Linked DNA regions of Homo sapiens: all the other regions are linked to region 1. The links come from fine-mapping of genetic effects on gene expression. A gene starts in region 1. Each other region holds a variant in brackets. All regions are shown on one strand. Distances are from middle to middle.

Region 1 (4,238 bases):
GCTCAGTCCATCTGCTTCTGCCAGGATCTTCCCATCCTCTGAGACTAAAAGGACCTCGGATCGTGTGCCTCCCCTACAGAACACAAGAGGGCACTTGATCTTGCTCGGAAAAACCCACAGAGAGAGCTAAGCTTGTGCTGTCCACACTGGCAGAGCCCAGTATGATGGAGGAGACAGCTTCGACAAACTCAATCACCACTCCCAAACCCGCCTCTGTGGTTCAGTGTTTGAGTGCTCTTTAACTGAAACATAATTCTCACTCCTCTTCCCTTGGGGATGTCCTCCTTATCCTGCAAGACTCTACTTACGCTTCACCTAGTCCTCGAAACCTTTTCTGAGGTGTGGCCCACCCCAACGAATTAGTTAAGTCTCCGTTAGTTAAACCTTCATAGTGCCTCCAAAGTTATTAAAGTCTCCTCTGTATGAAGTGTGTGTTCAGACGCTTTGTGTCCGCCTCTCACTAGACTTCAAGCTCCACTGGGTCAAGCTCCTGATCACTTACTTACCCTCTCAGAACGAGCACAGGAGCTGGCACAGGCAATGCTCAGCAAACACTCCTAAGAAAAATGGCACATCTCTCTGCTTCCCTCACAATAGCTAAAGACTGCATTTCAAGATCCAGCTGCCAAGGTCTTCAAGACACCTTTGCTAGAAATGCTGACCAGATGGCAGGGTGACTTCATACATACTTAAGCAACTAAACCTTCAAATGTTGATTACTGGGGGTCACAGTAGTTCACAGGGAGATCTGTGGTGATGGGATATATGTTTCTTTATTGATCATTACTTTTAGGAATGGCAGAAGAAGACACTGAAGACCGCTCATCAAACTCAAAGAGGACATGAAATTTCAAGGGGGTAGTTAATACATGAGGTGGCAGATTCCACATCCAAAAGCATGTCTTGACGAACTGGAAGAAACGGGTCATATCTTACAGATGACTATAACAAGGATGAATGCAGACTCCTATACTGTTTTTTTTAAGTGCTACAAATACAGGATGGGAAAGATCATTCCTAACAATTCATGTGAAAAGACTTTGGGGTCTGTGAATCAGCAGTGGGGTGTGGCTGCCAGAGAAGTGAAAACAATCACAGATTCGAAAGTACAGTGCCCTGGCTGAGAGGCCAGCGACCCCCATTATTCCCTGATTTGACAAACTCAGATTCACAGAATGTTGCCACTGGCAGGGACATAGCGATCTTATTTATCCCTATCCTCACTTTGCACATACGGTAACTGTAGCCCAGGGAGGGTAAATATCTTGTCCATGGTCATACCCAGGGGCAGAGCTATTACAAAAAGTTCAGTAAACAAGCTTCTGAGCAGAAAAATGCAATCTAGTGAAAGCAGCATGGAAGGCCAACAGGGATGGAGCGGTTTTCAGACATCAGGACAACCTAGTACTCTGGCTCGCAGCTGCTCCAGCTCCCGGATAACCTCAGCCAAGATCTTTGTCCCGCTTCTCCCCACTCCCACTCCCCACCCTGCCCGCGCTCAGCAATTTCACACCTGACACCTGTTCTGCAAAACTCTGTCCGAGGTCAGGAATAGGAAAAAGGAGCTGCTTCTCCAGCTGAAGACAGCGGAGTGGGTGTTTCGTGGAAGAAAGGGGCGTGGTTCCGCCAAGAAACACAAAGGATCCCCAACCCGGGGTGTGGCTGTTGCACAGGCAGAGTCCCCGTAAGGCATACAGCTGTGCGCTCCAGGGCGCCCCTGCGCGTGCACACACCTCTTCACCGCAAGGTCCCGCCGCCCAAAGTGCCCGGACGCCGAGGATCAAGGCCACCAGCTTGCCAGGCTGGCCACGGCCTTCCGCCCCGCCTTCGGGCCCAGGCTCCCTCCGCCGGGCCGCACTCACCCCTCTACACCCCCATAGATCGCGGCCATGCTGCTGCTACCGTCGCTGCTGGTCCCGCCGTTTGCGTCTCTCCCCGCCTGACACCTCCTTCCCTCCAGCTGTCTGGGCACCGCCCCACTTCCCGTGACCTCCCGCGCAGCCAGCTGACTCCCTGTGCGCGTGCGCATGCGCGGGGCGGGGCGCCGGTAGGAGCCGGGGATGGCTGCGTCCCTCAGGCTGTCTTCCTTCTGGTGTCTCCTCCAGGTGGAGCGACTGCGGTCCGCAGCGGCCCCTCCCGTCCTCCTGGATCCTGCTTCCAGAGATGGACACTAATCCCAAGAGGAGGAATCAAAGAGGGGTATCTAGGTCGGTCGGACCCTTAGGACACATCACTGACCTGCCTGCCTGTAAACGCCCGGAAGTTGCTGGCAGTCCCGCGTTAGGTTGCGCGTGCGCACTGCTCTTGGCCGCGTAGGTTGTGACGCATGCTCGGCCAGACCCCCGCGAAGCTGTGGGCTCAGGGACCTGCGCCCATGGACCTGTAACAGAAATTACTGTAATGTTCTACTGAACATCTGCCACGCGATGGCGAGTCACACGGGCACACACGAACACTCGCTCAGATTGTTGCCCTGCGCTCGTGTGAATGTACGGATCCGGGAGGAATTGGGACCTAAACAGACAAGCCCTCGAGGCGGTCCCGGCAGCCCTGAGGAGGGAGCCTTCACCTCTTCCTACCCACCCAGTTTACTTCTTGTGGAGGATATTTGCAGGGACATAGCCCACTGGGAGAACTAGCAGATACGGCTTTACAAGTTTTTTATTGCCTTTCAGCCCCCATTCCGCTCCCCTTCCTTGCGCTGCGTCGGGAAAGGGAATGGGATCCCTAGGGGTGCAAATACAGGCCAAGTCAGGGAGAGCTGTGGCTCCTGAGGGCCTCCTCTGGCTCCTCCGGGAAGTTTTGGGCCCTCAAGGAGCAGCTTCGCGGGCCAGGAGGGCGGTTAGCTGCCCTTGGCATCTTTTTGGGGAAATCAGTTGGCCTGTCGCGGGTCGAACTCTGTCCCCCTTGACTGCCTGCCATCTTCTGGAGAAACCCCTAATAGGCTGCTGTGTCTGGTTATGCTTTAGTGAGAAAATTAGGCTTTTTAAGCTTTCTCATTTCCTACCCTACCACGTTGTAATTCACAAAAGTAAAAAGTAAATCACTACATGATAGACTCTGTATCATGTATTCATTTATAGAATATATATCATATATTCTATATCAGATGGAGAATATAATAGAGGGTAGGATTTTTTTATGCCTGCCTATGGCATTTTTTTAATTCACAGCACTTTAGAGCTGGAAGATTATCCAACATACACATTTTTAGAATTACAGTTAGTAGATTGTGGTGCAATTAAACTGGGCAGGATTTTTGGAGACTAGATTGTAGGTGGATTTTGAAATAATTGTTTCTGTCCTGTACTACTGCAATGAGCCATGGGACGTATGTGTATAAATATTAAGTTTGTCTTTGTATTGCTTGTTTAGGCAAGCAAGCAAAAGGGAAAGTGCCCAGGTTTAAGACAAGAATTGAGTTCACCATTTACTAGCTGGATGAGCTTGGGTGACTTACAGGTAATTGCTGCAGCCTCTCCTCTACAAAATGGAAATGATAAACATCTACCTGCTGGGGCTGACGCAAGATTTAAATGCCAAAAGAGTTTTGGAAACCATAAAGTACTTCACAGATCTTAACTAACTTGTATTTACATTACCAATTAGTGTGTGCTGTCCTGCACAGTATCCATATGTGAATACTGAGCACTTGAAATGTGGTTAGTCCAAAATGAGATGTCCCGTCAATGTAGAATACACACAGGATTTCAAAGACTTACTACAAAAAAAGAGTGTAAGATACCTCATTAGTCACTATTATATGAATCACATGTTGAAATAACATTCTGGATGTAGTAGATCAAGATTATAGATTACTAAATTTTGCCAATCTATTATATTTTTTAGTGTCACTACTAGAATATTTAAAATTTTGACCTACATATTTCTGTTGTACAACCCTGTTGTCTCTATCTGGACCATAATATTTCAAAGTCACTGAATGCCTATTTATGAAATAAATAATGGCCATATAATTGATTTAAAGAAGAAAGTAGCCGGGCGTGGTGGCTCATTCCTGTAATCCCAGCACTTTGGGAGGCCGAGGGGGTGGATCACCCAAGATCAGGAGTTCAAGACCAGCCTGGCCAACAGGGCGAGACCCTGTCTCTACTAAAAATACAAAAGTTAGTTGGGCGTGGTGACAGGCGCCTGTAATCCCAGCTACTTGGGAGGCTGAGGCAGGAGAATCACTTGAACCCAGGAGGTGGAGGTTGTGGTGAGCCAAGATTGTGCCA
Region 2 (4,240 bases), 96 kb after region 1:
AAGTAGAAGAAGGTATGGTGACAATTTCTCAACAAATAGAGACTATCGATAAGGTAAACCATTAAAAAATAATCCAATGAATTCTGGAATTGCAGAGTATAATAATTGAAACAAAAAATTCACTAGAGAGGAACAATAGTGGATTTGAACTTGCAGAAGAAACGATCAGCAAACTTGAAGATAGGCAGTAGAGATTATGCAATCCAAAGAACAAAGAGAAAAAAGAATGAAGGAAAACAGAGCCTCAAAAAAAGTCGGGGGGCACCATTAGGCACACCAACATACTCATAATGGGAATTCCAGAAGGAGAGATGAGAGAAAAGAGCAGAGAAAGTAATTGAAGAAGCAATGGCTGAAAATTAGCCAAGTTTGATGAAAAAGATTAATCTACACATTTAAGAAAGCTCAGCAAACTCCAAGTAAGTTAAACACAAATATATCCACACCTAAGCTCATCATACTAAAAATGCTGAGAGACAAAGTTTTCAAAGCAGCAAGAGAAAAAGAACAAATCACATTCAAGGGAACCTCAATAAGATCAATAGCTGAATTCTCATCAGAAACAATGGAGGCCAAAAGGTAATGGGTAACATATTCAAAATGCTGAACAAAAAACAACTCTCAAGAATTTTATATCCAGAAAAGCTATCTTTGAAAATAAAGGCAAAATAAAGACATTGCCTGACAAACAAAAACTCAGAAAATTTGTTGCTAGCATCCCTGCCTTACAAGAATTACTAATGGAAGTTCTTCAGACTAGAAGTAAGTGACCCCACACCATAATCTGAATCTTCACAAAATAAAAACAAAACAAATCCAAAGAGCACTGGTAAAGATGACTATGTAATTACAAAAACAATATAAATGCATATTTCTTCTCCTTCTCTTAACTGACTTAAAAATAAATTGTATAAAACAACATATATGATTGTATTGTTGGGCCTATAATGTATAGAAGTGTAATCTATTTGACAATAACAACAAAAATGAGGTGGGTGGGAGCAAATCTGTATTGGAATAAAGACATAACAGCAGATGGTAACTCATACCCGTGAGAACAAATAACAAGAACCAGAAATAGTATAGAAGATTAATATAATATACTCTATAAATATATATTTACTATCCTTCTCAGCTTCTTTAAATGATATAAAACTATACAAGGCAATATTATAACAATGTATTATTTGCATATTATATATGCGCTATGTATAACAATAGTACAAAAAGTTAGAAAAGGGAATTGAGTAATAGAAGAATAATGTTTCAGTATCTCACTGGAATTAAGTTAGTATAAATCTGAAATAGATTCTGATAAGCTAAAATGAATAGAGTAAGCTCTAGAGTAACCACTAAGAAAACAACTGAAAAAAATAGAATGGAAAATGATTGAAGGAATTAAAATGTTACATAATAAAATATTCACTTAATGCAAAAGAAAGATTAAAGGAGAAACAGAGGAATGAAAAAGACATGACATATACAGAAAATGAAAAGTGATGAAGTCAGAAATAAATAAAACAAAAAGAAAAGAAAAGTAAAATGACAGATGTATATACTACCATATCAGTAATAACACTCAGTCAGACTGGATAAAAGTCAATATTCAACTATATGCTGTCTATGGGAGACATTTTATTTTTTATTTATTTATATTTTTTGTAGTGATAGGGTCTTACTATGTTGCCCAGGCTGATCTCAAACTACTAGCTTCAAGTGATTCTCCCACCTTGGCCTCCAAAAGTG[T/A]TGAGATTACAGGCATGAGCCACTGCACCCAGCCCAGAAGACACTTTAGATTCAAAGACACAGGTAGGTTGAAAAGGAAATAGATATATTATGCAAACAGTAAACATAAGAAAGATGAAGTGGCTACACTAATGTCAGACAAAATAGACTTGAACATCAAAACAAAATAAAACCCACAATCAAAGTATGTTACTAGAGATAAAGGAGGACATTTTATAATGAAAACAGGGTCAATCCATCAGAAAGATATAACAATTATAAACATATAAGCACCTAACACCAGAGTCCAAAAATATAGGAAGTAAAAACTGACAGAATTGAAAGAAAAAATAGACAATTCAACAATAATAATTGAAGACGTCAATATCCCACTTTCAGTAATGGATAGAATAAGTACCCAGAAGTACAACAAGGAAGTAGAAGTCTTGAACAATACTATCAACCAACTAAACCTGAAAGACATCTGTTGTACTCTTCATCCAACAACAGCAGAGTATACATTCCTCTCAAGTGCGCGTGAAACATTCTGTAGAATAGACAATATGCTGGACCATAAAACAAGACCCGATAAGTTTAAAATAATTGAAACGTTCTCTGACCACATGGGAATGAAATTAGAAATGAGTAAGAAATTAACTTGAGAAATTCACGAATCCGTGGAAATTAAACAATTCACTCCTAAATAACAAATAGGTCAAAGAAGAAGCCACAAGGAAAATTAGAGACTGCTTTGAGATTGATGAAAATAACAGGGAAAATTAACTAAACTCAAAGTCGGTTTTTATTTTTTATTTATTTATTTTTTTGAGACAGGATCTCACTCTGTCACCCAGGCTGGAGTATAATGGCACAATCTTGGCTCACTGCAGCCTCAACCTCCCAGGCTCAAGTGATCCTCCCACCTCAGCCTCCTCAGTAGCTAGGACTACAGGAACATACCACCATGCCCAGCTAATTTTGTTTAATTTTTTGTAGAAATAAGGTCTCACTATGTTGCCCAGGCTGGTCTCGAACTCCTGGGCTCAAGTGATCCTTCCACCTCGTCCTCCCAAAGTGATGGGATTACAGACATGAGCCACCATGCCTGGCCTCAAAGTTGGTTTTTAAAAAAGGTCAACAAATTTGGCAAACTTGAAGAAATAAGACCTAGTGTTTGATAGATCAGTAGGGTGACTATGGTTTACAACAATCTATTGTACATTTCAAAATATCCAGGAGAGGATAATTTGAGTGTTTCTAGCATAAAGACAAGACAAATATTTAAGGTGATGAATGTCCCAAGTGCGCTGATTTGATCTTTAAAAATTATGTGAATCTATTAAATTATCACATGTACTCTGGAATTATCTACATCTATTATGCATCAGTAAAATAATTATTTTTTAAAAATTGGCAAACCTTTAGCTAGACTGACCAAAAAAAAGAGAGAAGACTAAATTTATTAAAATAAGAGATGAAGGGGGACATTACTATGTACTTTACAGAAATAAAAAGGAGTACAAGGGTATATTATGAACAATTACTTGCCAACAATTTAGATAACTTAGATAACAAGGGAAAAAAATCCCATAATAACACAGCCTACCAAAATGGACTCAGGAAGAAATGGAAAATCTGAATAGACATATAATAATTAAAGATAATCAGTTAGTAGTAGTAGTAGTTAGTAGTAAAAACTGCCGACAGAGAAAAGTCCAAGTCCAGATGTTTGGTGAATTTTACCAAACATTTAAAGAAGAATTAATACAAATTATTCACAAAGTCTTCCCAAAATATAAACGAAAAATGAACAATTTCAACTCATTCTATTAGGCTAGTATTACCCTGCTACTAAAATCAGACAAAGACATCACAAGAAAAAAAAATTACAGACCAATATCTCTTGTGTATATAGATGCAAAAATCCTCCATAAAACACTAGCAAATAATATCCAATAACATATTAAGAAAGATTGTGCACCATGACAAAGGGAACTTATCCCAAGAATATAGGTTTGGTTTGATATCTGAAAATCAATATAATGCACTATATCAATGGAATAAAGGATAAAAAACCACGATCATCTCAGTAGCCAAAAAAAGATCATTTGACAAAATTCTACACCTCTTATTATAAAGCACTCAACAAACTTGGAATAGATTGAACTTCCTCAACTTGATAAAGGAAATCTATGAAAAACCCACAGCTAACATCACGCTTAATGGTGAACAGCTGAATGACTTCCCTTTAAGATCAGGAACAAGACAATGGTGTCCACTCTTGCCACCTCTATTTAACACTGTGCTAGAGGTTCTAGCCAGGGAAATTAGGTAAGGAAATGAAATGAAAGGCATCCAGATTCAAAAGGAATAAGTAATACTATCTCTATAGATTACATGATCTTGTATACTGAAAACCCTAAGGAATTCATTTAAAAACGATTCAAAGTAATAAATTAGTCAGCAAGATTACAGAATACAAGATCAATATCAAAAATCATTTGTATTTCTATAC
Region 3 (4,240 bases), 21 kb before region 1:
TTCACTCCTGAAGCCAGCCAGGCCACGAGCCCAGGGGGAGGAACGAACAACTCCAGACGCGCGGCCTTAAGAGCTGTAACACTCACCGCAAAGGTCTGCAGCTTCACTCCTGAGCCAGCAAGACCAAGAACCCACCAGAAGGAAGAAACTCCAAACACATCCGAACATTGGAAGGAATAAACTCCAGACGCGCCACCTTAAGAGCTGTAACACTCACCGTGAGGGTCCGCGGCTTCATTCTTGAAGTCAGTGAGACCAAGAACCCACCAATTCTGGACACAATGTCATAAATTTTACCCACTGCATTGGCCCATTTAGGCTGCCCAAACAAAATACCATAAACTGGGTACCTTATAAAAAAACAAATTTCTCAGTTCTGGAGGCTGGGCCGATTTGGTGTTTGGTGAAGGTTAGCTTCCTTCTAGCTGGTGCTTTCTCCTTGGATAGTAGCTTCTCCCTGCATCCTCATATGGTGGAAGGGGCAAGGCAGCTCTCTGAGGCTTCTTTTATAGGAAAACTGATCTCATTCATGAAGACTCCATCAATCTTCCTGGGCTCAAGCTATCCTTTTAGCCCAGCCTCCTGAGTAGCTGGAACAACAGGTATGCACCATCAGGCAGAGCTAATTTTTTTTTAAATTTAAATTTCTTGTAGAGACTGGATCTTGCTGTGTTTCCCAGGCTGTTCATAAATTCTTGTGCTCAAGTGATCCTCTCACCTCAGCCTCCCAAATTGCTGGGATTATAGGCTGGGTGTGGTGGGCCACCTCAGCCTGGGGTCTCTTTAATTAAGGTTATAATGCTAACTGACAGGCCTCTGAGCCCAAGCCAAGCCATCGCATCCCCTGTGACTTGCACGTATACGCCCAGATGGCCTGAAGTAACCGAAGAATCACAAAAGAAGTGAATATGCCCTGCCCCAACTTAACTGATGACATGCCACCACAAAAGAAGTGTAATTGGCCAGTCCTTGCCTTAAGTGATGACATTACCTTGTGAAAGTCCTTTTCCTGGCTCATCCTGGCTCAAAAAACACCCCCACTGAGCACCTTGTGACCCCCACTCCTGCCCACCAGAGAACAAACCCCCTTTGAGTGTAGTTTTCCTTTACCTACCCAAATCCTATAAAACGGCTCCACCCTTATCTCCCTTCGCTGACTCTCTTTTCGGACTCAGCCCGCCTGCACCCAGGTGAAATAAACAGCCATGTTGCTCACACAAAGCCTGTTTGGTGGTCTCTTCACACGGACGCGCATGAAATTTGGTGCCGTGACTCGGAACAGGGGACCTCCCTTGGGAGATCAATCCCCCATCCTCCTGCTCTTTGCTCCATGAGAAAGATCCACATACGACCTCAGGTCCTCAGACCGACCAGCCCAAGAACATCTCACCAATTTCAAATTCGGTAAGTGGCCTCATCTTACTCTCTTCTCCAACCTCTCTCACTGTCCCTCAACCACTTTGTCCTTTCCACTCTTCAATCTCTCCCTTCTTTTAATTTCAATTCCTTTCATTTTCTGGGAGAGACAAAGGAAACACGTTTTATTCGTGGACCCAAAACTCCGGCGCCGGTCACGGATTGGGAAGGCAGCCTTCCCCTGGTGTTTAATCATTGCAGGGACGCCTCTCTGATCATTCAGCCACGTTTCAAGGGTGTCAGACCACGCAGGGACGCCTGCCTTGGTCCTTCATCCTTAGCGGCAAGTCCCGCTTTTCTGGGGAAGGGGCAAGTACCTCAACCCCTTCTCTCCATGTCTCTACCCCTTCTCTGCTTTTCTGGGAGAGGGGCAAGTACCCCTCAACCTCTTCTCTCCTTGTCTCTACCCCTTCTCTGCTTTCCTGGGGCAGGGGCAAGTACCCCTCAACCTCTTCTCCTTCGCCCTTAGCGGCAAGTCCCGCTTTCCTGGGGCAGGGGCAAGTACCCCTCAACCCCTTCTCCTTCACCCTTAGCGGCAAGTCCCGCTTTCCTGGGGCAGGGGCAAGTACCCCTCAACCTCTTCTCCTTCGCCCTTAGCGGCAAGTCCCGCTTTCCTAGGGGGCAAGAACCCCCCAATCGCTTATTTCCACGCCCCAACCTCTTATCTCTGCGCCCCAACCTCTTATCTCTGCACCCCAATCGCTTATTTCCATGCCCCAACCTCTTATCTCTGCGCCCCAATCCCTTATTTCTGCGCCCCAACCTCTTATCTCTGCGCCCCAATCCCTTATTTCCGTACCCCAACACTTTCTCTGCTTTTCTGGAGGGCAAGAAACCCCCACCCCTTCTCCGTGACTCTACTCTTTTCTCTGGGCTTGCCTCCTTCACTGTGGGCAAGCTTCCACCTTCCATTCCTCCTTCTTCTCCCTTAGCCTGTATTCTTAAGAACTTAAAACCTCTTCAATTCTCACCTGACCTAAAACCTTATTTTCTTCTGCAATGCCGCTTGACCCCAATACAAACTCGACAGTAGTTCCAAATAGCCAGAAAATGGCACTTTGAA[T/A]TTTTCCATCCTGCAAGATCTAAATAATTCTTGTCGTAAAATAGGCAAACGGTCTGAGGTGCCTGACGTCCAGGCATTCTTTTACACATCAGTCCCTTCCTAGTCTCTGTGCCCAGTGCAACTCATCCCAAATCTTCCCTCTTTCCCTCCCGCCTGTCCCCTCAGTACCAACCCCAAGCGTCGCTGAGTCTTTCTAATCTTCCTTTTCTACAGACCCATCTGACCTCTCCCCTCCTCGCCAGGCCGAGCTAGGTCCCAATTCTTCCTCAGCCTCTGCTCCTCCACCCTATAATCCTTTTATCACCTCCCCTTCTCACACCTGGTCGGGCTTACAGTTTCGTTCCGTGACTAGCCCTCCCCCACCTGCCCAGCAATTTACTCTTAAAAAGGTGGCTGGAGCCAAAGGCATAATCAAGGTTAATGCTCCTTTTTCTTTATCCCAAATCAGATAGCGTTTAGGGTCTTTTTCATCAAATATAAAAATCCAGCCCAGTTCATGGCTCGTTTGACAGCAACCCTGAGACGCTTTACAGCCCTAGACCCTAAAAGGTCAAAAGGCCATCTTATTCTCAATATACATTTTATTACCCAATATGCTCCTGACATTAAATAAAACTCCAAAAATTAAATTCCGGCCCTCAAACTCCACAACAGGATTTAATTAACCTTGCCTTCAAGGCGTACAATAATAGAAAAAAGTTGCAATTCCTTGCCTCCACTGTGAGACAAATCCCAGCCACATCTCCAGCACACAAGAACTTCCAAATGCCTGAACCGCAGTGGCCAGGCGTTCCTCCAGAACCTTCTCCCCCAGGAGTTTGCTGCAAGTGCCAGAAATGTGGCCACCAGGCCAAGGAATGCCTGCAGCCCAGGATTGTTCCTAAGCCGTGTCCCATCTGTGCGGGACCCCACTGGAAATCGGACTGTCCAACTCACCTGGCAGCCACTCCCAGAGTCCCTGGAACTCTGGCCCAAGGCTCTCTGACTCCTTCCCAGATCTTCTTGGCTTAGCGGCTGAAGACTGACGCTGCCCGATCGCCTCGGAAGCCCCCTAGACCATCACGGACGACAAGCTTCGGGTAACTCTCACAGTGGAAGGTAAGTCTGTCCCCTTCTTAATCAATACGGAGGCTACCCACTCCACATTACCTTCTTTTCAAGGGCCTGTTTCCTTTGCCTCCATAACTGTTGTGGGTATTGACGGCCAGGCTTCTAAACATCTTAAAACTCCCCAACTCTGGTGCCAACTTAGACAATACTCTTTTAAGCACTCCTTTTTAGTTATCCCCACCTGCCCAGTTCCCTTATTAGGCTGAGACATTTTAACCTAATTATCTGCTTCCCTGACTATTCCTGGACCATAGCCGCATCTCACTGATGCCCTTCTTCCCAATCCAAAGCCTCCTTTGCGTCCTCCTCTTGTATTCCCCCATCTTAACCCACAAGTATAAGATACCTCTACTCCCTCCTTGGCGACCGATCATGCTCCCCTTACCATCTCATTAAAACCTAATCACCCTTACCCCGCTCAATGCCAATATCCCATCCCACAGCATGCTTTGAAAGGATTAAAGCCTGTTATCACTTGCCTGCTACAGCTTGGCCTTTTAAAGCCTATAAACTCTCCTTACCATTCCCTCATTTCACCTGTCCTAAAACCAGACAAGGCTTACAAGTTAGTTCAGAATCTGCGCCTTATCAACCAAATTGTTCTGCCTATCCACCCCGTGGTGCCAAACCCATATACTCTCCTATCCTCAA

The links. PIP is the estimated chance that this variant, and not a neighbour inherited with it, causes the effect.
Region 2: its variant is the best candidate, but not a certain one, in a credible set for the expression of NAGK in breast (GTEx, PIP 0.67).
Region 3: its variant is the best candidate, but not a certain one, in a credible set for the expression of NAGK in pancreas (GTEx, PIP 0.56).

Annotation. Positions count from the first base shown.
Region 1 is chr2:71,066,337-71,070,574 of GRCh38, reverse strand. NAGK (N-acetylglucosamine kinase) reads right to left here and starts at 1,927. Exons shown (of 10, transcript NM_017567.6): 1 at 1,863-1,927; 2 at 1-73. The coding sequence starts at 1,891. RefSeq lists a silencer at 1,642-1,701.
Region 2 is chr2:70,969,926-70,974,165 of GRCh38, reverse strand. It overlaps LOC105374795 (a long non-coding RNA gene), which reads left to right. Exons shown (of 2, transcript XR_001739534.2): 2 at 1-1,437. Among named protein-coding and RNA genes, the nearest start is that of ANKRD53, 6.6 kb to the left of the region's middle. The variant T/A (reference allele first, on the strand shown) is at 1,747.
Region 3 is chr2:71,087,564-71,091,803 of GRCh38, reverse strand. No RefSeq gene overlaps it. Among named protein-coding and RNA genes, the nearest start is that of NAGK, 21 kb to the right of the region's middle. RefSeq lists an enhancer at 659-1,248. The variant T/A (reference allele first, on the strand shown) is at 2,480.